Homo sapiens: one gene and its partner. The protein of the gene in region 1 interacts with the protein of each later gene in a pairwise test. Each region holds a gene or a part of one and is shown on either strand. Other genes may lie near its edges.

Region 1 (7,266 bases):
CACCCCCTGAGTCTGGGTTTCCAACCCCAGAAGAGCAGCACTTCGCCCACTTCCCCAGTCTCCTGCCCTCCCCACGCTGTGCCCACTTTGCCTCTTTTTTTTCCCCCGAGACAGATTGTCACTCTGTCACGTGGAGTGCAGTGGCGTGATCATGGCTCACTGCAGCCTTAACTGCTTGGGCTCAAGTGATTCTCCCACCTCAGCCTCCCAAGTAGCTGGGACTAAGGGCACATGCCACCACACCCAGCTAATTTTTGTATTTTTTGTAGAGATGGGGTTTCACAATGTTGCCCAAGCTGGTCTCGAACTCCTGGCCCTTTCTTCCACCTTTAAGAACATCCTGGCCAGGTACGGTGGCTCATGTCTGTTAATTGCAGTACTTTGGGAGGCCAAGGAGGGCAGATCACCTGAGGTCAGGAGCTTGAGACAAGCTTGGCCAACATGGCGAATCCCCGTCTCTACCAAAAATAGAAAAATTAGCTGGGCGTAGTGGTGGGAGCCTGTAATCCCAGCTACTTGGGAGGCTGAGGCAGGAGAATTGCTTGAACCCAGGAGGCAGAGGTTGCAGTGAGCTGAGATCGCCACTGCATACCAGCCTGGGCGACAGAGCGAAACTCCCTCTCAAAAAAAACAAAGAACATCCTTCCCACTGATCTCCAGCCAAACAGTCCTTCAAGGCCAAAAGCATTCCCCAGCTCCTCAGGGAACCACTCACCTACACCTGCCCACTGGTCCCCTGTGGATGTGCATCTTCCCCAACATACATTTTCTGTATGTTTTCTGAATATATATTTTAGGCTCCAATACAGCCACCCGGAGAGCCAGGCTCATGTCCTGACCTCTCACACCTTCTCTTATTGAGCACTTACTATGTTCCCAGCGCCATGCTAAGCCCTTTACAATCATTACCCTGTTCAACTCTCATGGCAAACCTTTGAGGGCACGCTACTATCCCCACTTTGTTTTTTTTAAAATTTTATTATTTTTTAAAGACAGGGTCTCACTATATTGCCCAGGCTGGACTTGAACTCTTGGCCTCAAGCCATCCTCCTGCCTCAGCTTCCAGAGTAGGGGGAACTACAGGCATGTGCCACTATGTCTAGCTGCCCCCACTTTAACATGAGAGGAGAAGGAGGCCAAGCAGTGAATGTCAGAATCAGGACTGGCCCAGTCAGTGACTCCGGGGCCTGTACCCTCACATCTGGCATAGCTTGCTGGGGATACCCTACAGTGGGAGTTCTCTATAGCAGGCTGCAGCCTGTTACTAAGCCATGAAATCATTTAGTACATTATGAACAGTATTGAAATAATAAGATAGAAAACAGGATTTTGTAAACAGTAAGTGTAAGTATTATATCAGGAAAGACATGTTCCTTTCATACACACACAAGTGCTGGAGCACAATGTAAAAAAAATCTATGGGCAAAAAGGTATGGAAAACCCTTTGGTTCTAGTGCACACACATATACAGGAAGCAAGCATTTATGGCAAATTACATTATTCAGTCATAACTAATTTGTTCCCAGGGAAGGTGATTGTTAATGTGGCGGTTTTACATGTTTCAGAAACAAAAATTGTAAATGCTATGTGATCATTTGCCCCACCTATACCGTTAGGGGTCACCAGAGTCACCAAGGACCATGCATTGCTGATGGGATGCCTGAGAGATCTCTGGATTTGCCCAAAGACTTGGAGACTTTTCCCAAACACTTCGTGAATTTTCCAAGATCTATTCACATTCTTTGGCCAAGTTTTTCTAGGACCAAGAGTAAAGAATCAAGAAACAGTTTCAAGAAATAAGGCGGCCAGGCGCGATGGCTCACGCCTGTAATCCCAGCACTTTGGGAGACTGAGGCAAGTGGATCATGAGGTCAGGAGATTGAGATCATCCTGGCTAACACAGTGAAACCCCGTCTCTACTAAAAATACAAAAAATTTAGCCAGGCATGGTGGCGGGCGCCTGTAGTCCCAGCTACTCAGGAGGCTGAGGCAGGAGAATGGCGTGAACCCAGGAGGCGGAGCTTGCAGTGAGCCGAGATTGCGCCACTGCACTCCAGCCTGGGCGACAGAGCGAGACTCTGTCTCAAAAAGAAAAAAAAAAGAAATAAGGCTTTGGGTTGGGCATGGTGGATCATGCCTGTAATCCCAGCATTTTGAGAGGCTGCAGTGAGAGGACTGCTTGAGCCCAGGAGTTCAAAATCTGCCTGGGCAACACTAAGACCCCATCTCTACAAAAAACAAAAAGTTAGCTGGGCATGGTGGTGCACACTTATAGTCCCAGCTACTCAGGAGACAAAAGCAGAAGGTCTGCTGGAACCCAGGAGTTTGAGACTAGCTTGGGCAACACAGCGAGATCTCATCTTTAATACACAAATAAATAATTTTGTTTTCTGTTTTTAAGACAGGGTCTCACTCTGTTGCCCAGACTGGAGTACAGCAGCAATCAAAGCGATCCTCCTGCCTCAGCCTCCTGAGTAGCTGGGACTACAGGTGCACACTACAACTTCCAGATATATTTTTAGTTTTTTCCTCTGGAGAGAAGGGTTCTCACTATGTTGGCCAAGCTGGTTTCTTTTTCTTTTTTTTTTTTGAGATGGAGTCTCGCTCTGTCGCCCAGGCTGGAGTACGGTGGCGCGATCTCGGCTCACTGCAAGCTCCGCCTCCCGGGTTCACGCCATTCTCCTGCCTCAGCCTCCCAAGTAGCTGGGACTACAGATGCGTGCCACCACACCAGGCTAATTGTTTGTATTTTTAGTAGAGATGAGGCTTCACTGTGTTAGCCAGGATGGTCTTGATCTCCTGACCTCATGATCTGCCTGCCTCAGCCTCCCAAAGTGCTGGGATTACAGGCATGAGCCACCATGCCCGGCCAGCCAAGCTGGTTTCTAATTCCTGGCCTCAAGCAATCCTCCTGCTCTGGTCTCCCAAAGCCACTGTGCCTAGCCAAATAGTAATTTTAAAAAAGAAATATGCGGGTTGGATGCAGTGGCTCACGCCTGTAATCCCAGCACTTTGGGAGGCTGAAGCGGGTGGATCATCTGAGGTCAGGAGTTTGAGAACCGCCTGGCCAACACAGTGAAACCCCTACTAAACCTACTAAAAATACAAAAAATTAGCTGGGCGAGGTAGTGCACAACTGTAATCCCAGCTACTCGCGGGGGCTGAGGCAGGAGACTCACTTGAACCCGGGAGGTGGAGGTTGCAGTGAGCCAAGATCGCACCACTGCACTCCAGCCTGGGCGACAAAGTGAGACTCTGTCTCAAAAAAAAAAAAGAAAGAAAAAGAAATACATGTGGTGGCTCACGCCTGTAATCCCAGCACTTTGAGAGGCCGAGGCGGGTAGATCACTCAACCGCAGGAGTTCGAGGCCAGCCTAGGCAACATGGAAAAACCCCGTCTCTACAAAAATACAAAAATTAGCCAGGGGCTGGGCATGGTGGCTCATGTCTGTAATCCCAACGCTTTGGGAGGCCAAGGCAGGCAGATCACCTGAGGTTGGGAGTTCGAGAACAGCCTGACCAACATGGAGAAACCCCGTCTCTACTAAAAATACAAAATTAGCCGGGTATGGTGGCGCATGCCTGTAATCCCAGCTACTCAGGAGGCTGAGGCAGGAGAATCGCTTGAACCCGGGAGGCAGAGGTTGCAGTGAGCTGAGATCACATGATTGCACTCCAGCCTGGGCAACAAGAGTGAAACTCCATCTCAAAAAAATAAATTAATTAAAAAATACAAAAATTAGCCAGGTGTGATGACACACATCTGTAGTTTCAGCTACTTAGAAGGCTGAGGCAGGAGAATCACTCAAACCCGGGAGGCGGAGGTTGCAATGAGCCGAGATTGTGACACCGCACTCCAGCCTGGGCAGATACTTAGGAGACTAAGGTGGGAGGATCACTTGAGCCCAAGAGGTAGAGGCTGCAGTAAACCATGATCATGCCAATGCACTATAGCCTGGGTGAGAGACCCTGCCTCAAAACAAAACAAAAAACCATACATAAATAAAAAAAATACACACACACACACACACACACACACACACACACACACACATAGAGCAGGTGCAGTGGCTCACACCTATAATCCTTACACTTCTTTTTCTTTTTTTCTTTTTGAGACAGATTCTTGCTGTGTCACCCTGGCTGGAGTGCAGTGGCGTGATCTCAGCTCACTGCAACCTCTGCCTCCCAGGTTCAAGCAAATATTGTGCCTCAGTCTCTCGACTAGCTGGAATTATAAGTAAGAACCACCATGCCTGGCCTAATCCCAGCACTTTAGAAGGCCAAGGTAGGAGGATGGCTTGAGCCCAGGAGTTCAAGACCAGCATGGGCAACAAAGGAGGAACCATCTCTTTTTTTTTTGAGACAGAGTCTCACTCCATCACCCAGGCTGGAGTGCAGTGGCACAATCTCAGCTCACTGCAACCTCCACCTCCCAGGTTCAAGCGGTTCTCAGGTCTCAGCCTCCCGAGTAGCTGAGACTATAGGCATGTGCCACCAGGCCCAACTAATTTTTGTATTTTTAATAGAGATGGGGTTTTGCCATGTTGGCTAGGCTTGTCTCAAACTCCTGATGTCAAGTGACCCACCCACTTCAGCCTCTCAAAGTGCTGGGATTACAGGCAACCGTCCAGGAGAACCACCTCTACAAAAAATTTAAAAATTAGCCGGACGTGGTGGCAACACCTGTAATGTATTCCAGCTACTTGGGAGGCTGAGGTAGGAGGATCACTTGAGCTCAGGAGGTCAAGGCTGCAGTGAGCCATGATCAGAACACTGCACTCCAGGCTGGGCAACACAGCAAGATCCTGTCTTTAAAAAAAAAAAAAAAAAAAAAAGCTGGGCACGGTGGCTCATGCCTATAATCCCAGCACTTTGGGAGGCCGAGGCGGGCAGATCATGAGGTCAGGAGATCAAGACCATCCTGGCTAACACAGTCAAACCTCATCTCTACTAAAAATACAAACAATTAGCCGGGTGTGGTGGCGGGCGCCTGTAGTCCCAGCTACTCAGGAGGCTGAAGCAAGAGAATCGCTTGAACCTGGGAGGCAGAGGTTGCAGTGACCTGAGATCATGCCACTGCACTCCAGCCTGGGCAACAGGGCAACAGAGTGAGACTCCATCTCAAAAAGGAAAAAAAAAAAAAAAAGGCCAGGCACTGTAGCTCAAGCCTGTAATCCCAGCACTTTGAGAGGCCCAGGAAGGCAGACTGCTTGAGCTCAGTAGTTCAAGATGGCTCTGGGCAACTCGAGAAACCCTGTCTCTACAAAAAAAATACGAAAAGTAGTCAGGCATGGTGGTTCGTGCCTACAGTTCCAGCTACTTGGGAGGCAGAGGTTGCAGTGAACCAAGATCGCACCACTGCACTCTGGCCTGGTCAACAGAGCAAGACTAGGTCTCAAAAAAAAAAAAGAAAGAAAGAAAAGAAAAGAAACGAAACAAGGCCTTTTCTTCAGCCTGAGACAGAACAAACCTCCATGGCTCACACAGCTCACTAACACATGGCCTCGGCCCCATTAATACCTATTTCTGATGAAAACTAGCCAAGCTGCCACATGAGTGACAGAGGGCACTCCCTTCCCTAAGCCCCATCTCTGTCCTCACCCCCTCTGGGGTGCTTCAGATCTATTAATAGGTTGAAGGGGCAGAGAAAGGGAGAGGCACAATGGCTCATGCCTATAATGCTAGCACTTTGCGAGGCTGAGGTGGGAGGATCACTTAAGGCCAAGAGTTTGAGACCTGCCCAGGCAACACAGTAAGACCCTGTCTCTACCAAAAAAAAAAAAAGAAAAAAGAAAACAAACAAACAGAGGCAGAAACAGGATGAAGGGATACAGCAGGTAGCTAACAGCACCAAGAATCACCAAGGACTTACGCACCCAGGTTCTGGGCACATAGTGAAAAGCATTAAGGACTACATTAGTTCTCTTGACTTTTATTAAATTATCACTTGAAACGCGCCAAGAAGAACATGTACCTATTATTTAAAGGAGACCAACAACCTCATGAATACACTGAAAACCACTAATTGTATATTTTGAAATGGTGACTTTTATGCTACGTGAATATCACGTTTAAAATGTTACTTAAAAAAAAAAAAAAGAAAAGCAGTGTCATATTTAATATTATACCTGAGTTCCAATACTCCAGTAAAACCACCCGACGTAAGAAGGATGCCGAAACCAAGCGTACACTCCACTGGTCACCAGAGTATGTGTATCTGATTTTTCATTCTGTACCACGTGGTTGAAATTGGAGCCAGCTGTAAACATGGCCGCCTTCCTCAGACATTCTCCGAAGACCACCATCAGCAGCCCTGTGACACTGAGCCAGGTAATCTGCTTCAGTTCTGTGGGAGAGAGACATCAACGACACACGGGGAGTGAAAACACTGGCCTGAGCTCCCCTTCGCACTGCTTAAAATTAACCTATTTTCCCGAAGACAGAAACAGAAAATGTGCTGCTGGGCAATCAGCATTTGTCATCACATTAAAATTTCATAAGAAAACACATTCCCCTAAGTTATGCTGTTCATCAATTTACTTTAAAACACCAATAAGCACAATGAAAGCATCATGGTAAAGAGATGCTCTCCTGCTACAGCTGATGGGCTCTCTGGTTCACGACCCCCGGCCACATGCTCAGTCCTTCATCTGGGGACAAGTATAGCTAAGAGAAGCAAAAAAGGGTCCAAGGTTTCCACCCTGAATCCCAGGAGCCACATGTATTTCATTTCATTGGCTGTGAGACATTCAATTTCAGAGTGCATTCCACATACGGAGGCTTTTATTTTTTGAGACGGAGTTTCACTCTCATTGCCCAGGCTGGAGTGCAATGGCACAATCTCAGCTCACTGCAACCTCCATCTCCTGGGTTCAAGCAATTCTCCTGCCTCAGCCTCCCAAGTAGCTAGAATTACAGGCATGCACTACCAGGCCCGGCTAATTTTGTATTTTTCGTAGAGACGGGGTTTTACCATGCTGGTCAGGCTGGTTTCAAACTCCTGACCTCATGTGATCCACCCACCTCGGCCTCCCAAAGTGCTGGGATTAAAGGCGTGAGCCACTGCACCCGACCTTGTTAGTAAACTCTTTTTTTTTTTTTGAGATGGGAGTCTCGCTCTGTCACCCAGGCTGGAGTGCAGTGGCGCGATCACGGCTCACTGCAACCTCCGCCTCCCGGATTCAAGCAGTTCTCCTGCCTCAGCCTCCCGAGTAGCTGGGATTACAGGCATGTGCCACTACGCCTGGCTTTTTTGTATTTTTA
Region 2 (7,911 bases), about 27 Mb from region 1:
TGTGGGTATGCAGCCAAACCTCACCAATCAGACTTGTTCTGAAGAATTTTGAGAATCTGGAACAAAGGGAAGATAATTACTCCTCTCTGGTGAGGAAGCTAGGACACATAAGCTAGGGATTCTACAGTTCCAGCAAGAGAGAGAAGTAGACTGAAAAAATAAAGTGGGAAGAAGAGGGAGTTAATGCTTAATGGCTATGGAATTCCAAGTTGGTAAAACGAAAAAGTTCTGGAGATGGATGGTGGTGATGGTTGCACAACAATATGAATTTATTTAATGTTACCAAACTGTACACTTAAAATTGGTTAAAATGGTAGATTTTATGTAATGCATATTTTACCACAATAAAAAAAAAAGAAGAAGCTAGCATGCAGAGAAGCAAAGATGAATGATGGAGTGCAGGATCTGGGGGCTTTCCTGGGTGCAGTTGCTGTGGTACAAAGGGTTCAAAAGGTTATAGAAGCCAAAAATCACTCCTTTGGCCTAGCCTCATTCAAGTTAGGCTTCTGGTCCTTGCATCCAATGGAGCCATAATACAGAACCTTTCCATTTTCTTTTTTGTTTCTTTTCTTTTCTTTTTTTTTTTTTTTTTTTTTTGAGAAGCAGTCTCACACTGTGGCCCAGGCTTACAGTACAGTGACATGATCTTGGCTCACTGCAACTTCTGCCTCCCAGGTTCAAGTGATTCTCGTGCCTTGGCTTCCCGAGTAGCTGGGACTACAGGTGAGTGCCACCATGCCTGGCTAATTTTTGTATTTTTAGTAGAGACAGGGTTTCTGCATGTTGGCCAGGCTGGTCTCGAACCTCCCGACCTCAAGCAATCTGCCCACCTCAGCCTCCCAAAGTGCTGGGATTACAGCGTGAGCCACCATGCCTGGCCAGAACCTTTCCATTTTCATTTCTCACTCATGTCCTTTCAAACATTCTCTTCTCCTGTCAACCCTGCTGCTCATACTTCCTCAGACTTATCCTGTGTTTATACACACTATGCCTTTCCTCCCTGCTCCCCAAGCTTGGAATGTCCTTCCCCCTTCTTATGACTTTGTCAACTCATATTCATCATTTGAGATCCAGCTGAAAGGGCTCCTCCTCAGGAAAGCCATCCCTGACCACCCTAAGCAGAGCCTGCCATGCCTTCTGTTGGTCTGTCATAGCTTTTTTGTATATGTCCTCATCACTTGGTATCTCAGTGATCTGCCATCTTGTCTGTAACCCCCAGTAGATTATGTTTTTCATCTCCATGACCCTGGTAGCTAGCAAAGAGGCTAGCACAAGTAAGTATAATAAATCTTTACTGAATGAGTGTACAGATGAGTGAGAATCTTTTTCTCCCTCATGCCATCTCTGAGTCACTACTCAGTTTCTATCAAGAAGAGACACATAAGGAAACGTGGGAGGAATTGCTTTAGTCCCTTTATTCAAGGGTGATAGTCTCAGGAGAGAAGAAAACACAATCAAGTTGGGGCCACTGCAAAGTCTAGTGGCATTTAAGAGAAGTTATTTTCCCCAAAGCACTGGCAGCTTTGAACTGAGGCTGAATTTGTTTGGAAGCCAGAGCCAAGACAAGCAGACATTTGGTAGTGTTGAGCCTTCCAGCAAGCTGGGATTCTGACAGCCGTTTCTGTCAGCTGCACAAGGAGAAGCATCTAAAAGGCATCTGGGTCTACCTGGAATTGGGGGTCCCCATATCTTTTAGCACAATCTGACCCAAGGAACAAGGCAGCCGTCTCTCCTACCCTCCATTCCCACCATAAGCATATACCTCCTCTAAGGGGGCTCTGCAGTTGATTAGGACGTTGGGCACTGAGAACAGAGTCAAAGATGACTATAGGAAACTGTGGCAGAGATGATACTACTGCTTACTAAATGGCTTATGGTTTCTTCCTACATTTCCCAGCCTCCCTTGCAGTTTTTTTGTTTGTTTGTTTGTTTTTGACACAGAGTCTTGCTCTCTCGCCCAGGCTGGAGTGCAGTGGTGTAATCTCCGCTCACTGCAACCTCTACCTCCTGGGTTCAAGCGATTCTCCTGCCTCAGCCTCCTGAATAGCAGGGATTACAGGCGCCCCACCACACCCCGCTAACTTTTGTATTTTTAGAGATGGGGTTTCACCATGTTGGCCAGGCTGGTCTCGAACTCCTGACCTCAGGTGATCCACCTGCCTCGGCCTCCCAAAGTGCTAGGATTACAGGCATGAGCCACCGTGCCTGGCCTCCAGCTCTCTTTTTGAGGCAATACTGAAAGCTTTGCATTGAGATAGTGGAGCCCAAGAGAGAAGTAGTCTGGATCTCTGAGTTACCCAGGAGAGTTGAGGAGAGCTACTCTGGAGAGTGCCTTAACCCACAGCCAGCGTTGCATGAGTGGAAAAGATATACCATTGTTGTGTGTTATGCCATTGAGAAATTTGGCTTGTTTGTTACCATAGCCAAGTCTAGCCTATTCTGCCAGATAAATATAGACATTAATTGTTGTTTTAGCCATCCAGCATCAAACCTCCTTCCTATTTGAGGATTAAACTCTCCCCCTCCTTTAGGACTCTTTGGTGTTGCCAAATCCAGTGGTCACATCTCTGTTCTTATCTTTCTTGATTTCTCAGCAGCATTTGTCACAATTGACCACTCCCTTCTGGGAACATACTATGTTGGTGTCTGTGACATCATGCCTGCTTAGTTTTTCTTTTATGTCACTGGCCCCCGCTTTTCAGTTTTCTTTGTTGGCTCCCCTTCTTGTTTTATGTCAAAAGTTTGAAGTTCTGGAGACCTGGTTTAAAATATCACAGCTGGTTTCCACCTTTTGAGACGATGTCTTTTTGTGTCACCCAGGCTGGAGTGCAGTGGCATAATCACGGCTCACTGCAGTCTCAACCTCCCAGGCTCAAGCATTCCTCCCACCTCAGTCTCCCAAGTAGCGGGGACTACAGGCACACTCCATCACACCCAGATAATTTTTGTATTTTTTGTAGAGATGGGGTTTTGCCATGTTGCTCAAGCTGGTCTCAAACTCCTGGGCTTAAGAGATTCACCAGCCTAGGTCTCCCAAAGTGTTGTAATTACAGGTGCGAGCCACAGCTCCTGGCCCATCTTACCATTCCTTATTAATAACAGAGCACTCATTGTTAGCTGGGCACATTGTACCCAGTTAAGAGAATGTTTCCCAGGCTCCCTTGCAGCTGAGTATGGCCATGTGAGTGAGTATGTTTTGGCAAAAATGTGCGGGACTTTCGAGGCAGTCCTTTTTTCTTTCTTTCTTTTTCTTTTTCTTTTTTTTTTTTTTTTGAGACAGAGTCTCGCTCTGTCGCCCAGGATGGAGTGCAGCGGCGCGATCTCGGCTCACTGCAACCTCCGCCTCCTGGGTTCACGCCATTCTCCTGCCTCAGCCTCTCGAGTTGCTGGGATTACAGGCGCCCGCCACCACGCCCGGCTAATTTTTTATATTTTTAGTAGAGACGGGATTTCACTGTGTTAGCCAGGATGGTCTCCATCTCCTGACCTCGTGATCCGCCAGCCTGGGCCTCCCAAAGTGCTGGGATTACAGGCGTGAGCCTCCGCGCCCAGCCCCAAGGCAGTCTTCTTAAAAGGAAGAGGATGCATCTTTCTTCCCTTTTTCCTTCCCACTGTTTGGAATATGGACCATAGTGAGGTGACCTTAACACTGGAAGCCAAATACTGAGGATGGCTGAACAGCCCTGAACTGCCTACTTTTGGACTTATATTTCATGGAAAGAGAGAAATTTCTGGCTAGGTGCAGCGGCTCATGCCTGTAATCCCAGCACTTTGAGAGGCCAAGGCAGGAGGATCGCTTGAGCCCAGGAGCTCGAGACCAGCCTGAGCAACACAGGGAGATTTCATCTCCATGAAAAAAATAAAAATAATAGGCAGGCCTGGTGGCGCACCTGTGCTCCCAGCTACTCCAGAGGTTGGGGTGGGAGGATCGCTTAAGCTTGGGAGGTTGAGGCTTCAGTGAGCTGTGATCACGCCACTGCACTCCAACCTGGGTGACAGAGCAAAACCGTCTCAGGAAAAAAAATAAATAAATTTCAATCGTAAGCTATTTTTTTCTTTTGTTATTTGCAATTGAATGTAATCCTGATACATTCCTGTTGTTGAAGCTGTTTGCCTGCCTCCCACTAGGAAGCCTAAGGGTCCAGATCCTCCCCCAGTCAGAGGAATGGGGAACTAGAAAAAGAAAGGCAAAGGCACTGCCAGGCAAGAAAACGCTGGGTCTCCTTCCACAAGTTTGGTAAGTAAGCAAGATACCAGGAGGATAGAATGGTAAGTGAGCCTAGAAATAGACTATTATATACATAGGGTTTATTAAATACATAGAGAACACTGAATGCTAGACTAAGAAATTTGGACTTTATTCTGGAAGTCCCTTGCAATAGGGGACCTTGTCTGTTTTATTTTCTAATGCCTCGCACTTTGTAGAAGCTCAGTGAATGAATATATTCTTTATTAATTTATGCCGTCTGCTTAATAAACAGAAATGTTGGAAGGTGAACCAGTTGGGAGTCACCATCTGATCAACCCCTGCCTGCTTTTTATAAATAATGTAACTGAACCATCATTTACTGGAAGTGGCAATCAACCTGTGAGGAACGGCAAACCAAAAAGTCCACCTTGGGTGTCATGGTGATGGAATTGGAGGCGGAGACCAGGGAGAGCAGCGGGCTAGGATCTCTGAGAGTCTCCGCAACATGGCGGCCCTGGAACCACCTGACCGGCAGGAGGCGGAGCTCCGCCCCAGCTCGCTCGGCCCCACCCCGCTCGGCCCTGCCCAGCGCACTCCTAGACCGGGGCGCAAGGGTTGTGAGGTGTTTGAGCGAAGCGCCTGCGCAGGGCAGCGGCGCGCGGGGCGGAGGCTTTATAATCACTTCGTCGTTGCCGCTCGGCTTCTATCGCCGGGAGGGCGGTTGAGGCGGTGGTGGCGGCGTCGGCGGCGGCCGGGCGCTGGCTGAGGGGCGCTGAGGCGGGAGCTGTGGCGGCGCTGGGCGCCCCTGGCTCCTCGGCCTCTGCCGGCCATGGGCTCCGAGAAGGACTCCGAGTCGCCGCGCTCCACATCGCTACATGCGGCCGCACCCGACCCTAAGTGCCGCAGCGGCGGCCGGCGCCGGCGCCTCACCTTGCACAGCGTCTTCTCTGCCTCGGCCCGCGGCCGCCGCGCCCGGGCCAAGCCGCAGGCCGAGCCGCCGCCCCCGGCTGCGCAGCCGCCGCCCGCCCCGGCCCCTGCCGCGGCCCAGGGCCCGCCGCCCGAGGCGCTGCCCGCCGAGCCGGCCGCCGAGGCCGAGGCGGAGGCCGCGGCGGCGGCGGCGGAGCCTGGGTTCGACGATGAGGAGGCGGCGGAGGGCGGTGGCCCGGGCGCGGAGGAGGTGGAGTGTCCGCTGTGCCTGGTGCGGCTGCCGCCTGAGCGGGCCCCGCGCCTCCTCAGCTGTCCGCACCGCTCGTGCCGGGACTGCCTCCGCCACTACCTGCGCCTGGAGATAAGCGAGAGCAGGGTGCCCATCAGCTGCCCCGAGTGCAGCGAGCGACTCAACCCGCACGACATCCGCTTGCTGCTCGCCGACCCGCCGCTTATGCACAAGTACGAGGAGTTCATGCTGCGCCGCTACCTAGCCTCGGACCCCGACTGCCGCTGGTGCCCGGCCCCGGACTGCGGGTGAGCGCGGGGGCGTGGCGCGGGTGGCGGCGGGCTGCAGCCGAGGGGCGTGGCTGGGGGCAGCAGGGACCCCGCGTGGGTGTCCCAAGCAGGGAAACCCGCAAGGCGGCAGCTTCGGCGGGGTGGTAACCATCAGGCAAGCCCAGACTAGTGGTGTGAACGCACCCGACACCCCGCCCCCTGCCCCAGGGCTCGAGGTGGCTGCTAAGCATTCGGTGAGGGGAAGGGAGCTGTCCAAGTTAGGAGACAGGGAGAGGCGGTTTTTTTGTTGGGGGAATGCCCTCTGTCCGGAGGTGAGGACAGTATCTTTTTTTTTTTTTCTTTTTTTTTTTGGAGACGGAGTCTCGCCCTGCCGCCCAGGCTGGAGTGCAATGGCGCGATCTCGGCTCACTGCAACCTCCGCCTCTCAGGTTCAAGCGATTCTCCTGCCTCAGCCTCCCGAGTAGCTGGGATTACAGGCGCCCGCCACCACACCCGGCTAATTTCTTTGTATTTTTAGTAGAGATGGGGTTTCACCATGTTGGCTAGGCTGGTCTCGAACTCCTGACCTCAGGTGATCCTCCTGCCTCGGCCTCCCAAAGTGCTGGGATTACAGGCGTGAGCCACCGCTCCCGGCCAAGGTGGGGAGTATCTCTTAATGAGAGTGGGGAGGGGATATTTGGCCAAGGAGGGAATGAGAATATTCTGAGGGGGCAGCGCGTCGGAGGGGTGTGTCCACTTGGCTAGGGACAGACTTAGCATTGCAGAAGAAGGCGTGTTCTCCCTGACAACCACCGCTGAAAGTTGGGATGGAGGTGACTGGGGAATAGGCTCTCGGGTACCCTGAGCACTATGTGTTCTGTGCCACGCTATCGGGAGGCACTCTGTCGTTCTTACCTTGCTGCCTTGGGTAGGGTGAGGGGTAGACAGATATGTTCTTTGTCCAGAGTCTCAATGGGGGCACTGAGAAGAATGCCCAGAGGTTGGTGTGATAGGAGAAATTGTGTTTCTGAACCCCTTTGATCTTGAGTTCTTGATGACAGTCTTTTTAATGCACCATGTAGGCTGAATTTTAAAGGGCAGTAAATTAAAATATGCAATATCTGCAGAGACATAATACACCAGATTTTGCTATCTGAAGCATTCAGTGGAGACCTTCCTCGCCCTCCCCGCCTTTAGAAGTCTAATTGTTACTGTCAGTATATCCCATGAAGGGGTTGCACGCAGGAAGAGGGGCTCATTTAAGTAGTTGGGAGTCAGACAGCCATTACCTGTTCTGTGACCTTGGGCAGATAATTTTATTCTTGTGTGTCATGTTTTGGCGACAAAAAGATGCTGGGGAGTCCTTGCAGTGTGTAAACGTAATGCTAGTAAAAAGTTGTGTGATCTTTAGCTTCAAAGGAGTTAAGGACTTTTAATTGTAGCCTATATATCAAGGTGGTTTTGAAATCTCCATGATGCTGCTGGTTGTCTCCTTTCAAAAGGAGCTGTCTTAGAGTGTCTAGGAGAGTAAGAAGAGTTAACTTCTGTTTTTAATTCTGCCAAACTTGTTTAGAAATGGGTGTGCTATTTAACCTCACTGAGATGGGGTTTCTAAATTACTTTGAAGTGTTGTGGTCAAAGGAATGGTGTTTATGGTGGCTCACTTTCACTTTCAGTTAATAAGTATCAGGAAGGACCTTTTAGGTTCATGGAACTGTCTATGTCTAGTGATCTTACTGGCCCTCTGAGGTTAATTTATATTAAAGTTTTACAGATACTGTTGATCTGTTTTCTTAACCAAACGAATATTAAGAGAACACAGGCCAGGCTCGGTGGCTCACGCCTATAGTCCTAGCATTCTGGGAGACCAAGGTGGGTGGATCACCTGAGGTCGGGAGCTCAAGACCAGCCTGGCCAACATAGTGGTATCCTGTCTCTGCTAAAAATAGAAAAATTAGCCGGGCATGGTGGTGCACACCTGTAGTCCCAGCTACCCAGGAGGCTGAGGCAGAATCGCTTGAACCTGTGAGGCAGAGGTGCAGTGAGCCGAGATCAGGCCACTATACTCCAGCCTGGGTGACAGAGCGAGATTCTGTCTCAAGAAAAAAAAAAAACAAAACACTGCATAGTTAATTTTGGAATAGTACATTAACTCCTTTCTGAGATGTTTCCTTGAGTTCTAAGAAATGTGGCAGATCATCTTTCTGGAAAAGGTCCCTGTTTGTTTTTTTATTTTTCTAAAGTCAGTTTCTGTCTTTGCTCACATCAATAAAAATGCACAGAAAATAATTTTCAAG

The links.
Region 2: the proteins of ICMT (region 1) and RNF19B interact in binary tests that used the Homo sapiens proteins (3 or more experiments, as listed by UniProt).

Annotation. Positions count from the first base shown.
Region 1 is NC_000001.11:6,225,771-6,233,036, forward strand, and holds part of ICMT (protein-S-isoprenylcysteine O-methyltransferase), read right to left. Parts: intron 6,350-7,266; coding exon 6,132-6,349; intron 1-6,131. UniProt on the Homo sapiens protein: Catalyzes the post-translational methylation of isoprenylated C-terminal cysteine residues.
Region 2 is NC_000001.11:32,961,793-32,969,703, reverse strand, and holds the start of RNF19B (E3 ubiquitin-protein ligase RNF19B), read left to right. Parts: upstream 1-4,894; 5' UTR 4,895-5,018; coding exon 5,019-5,653; intron 5,654-7,911.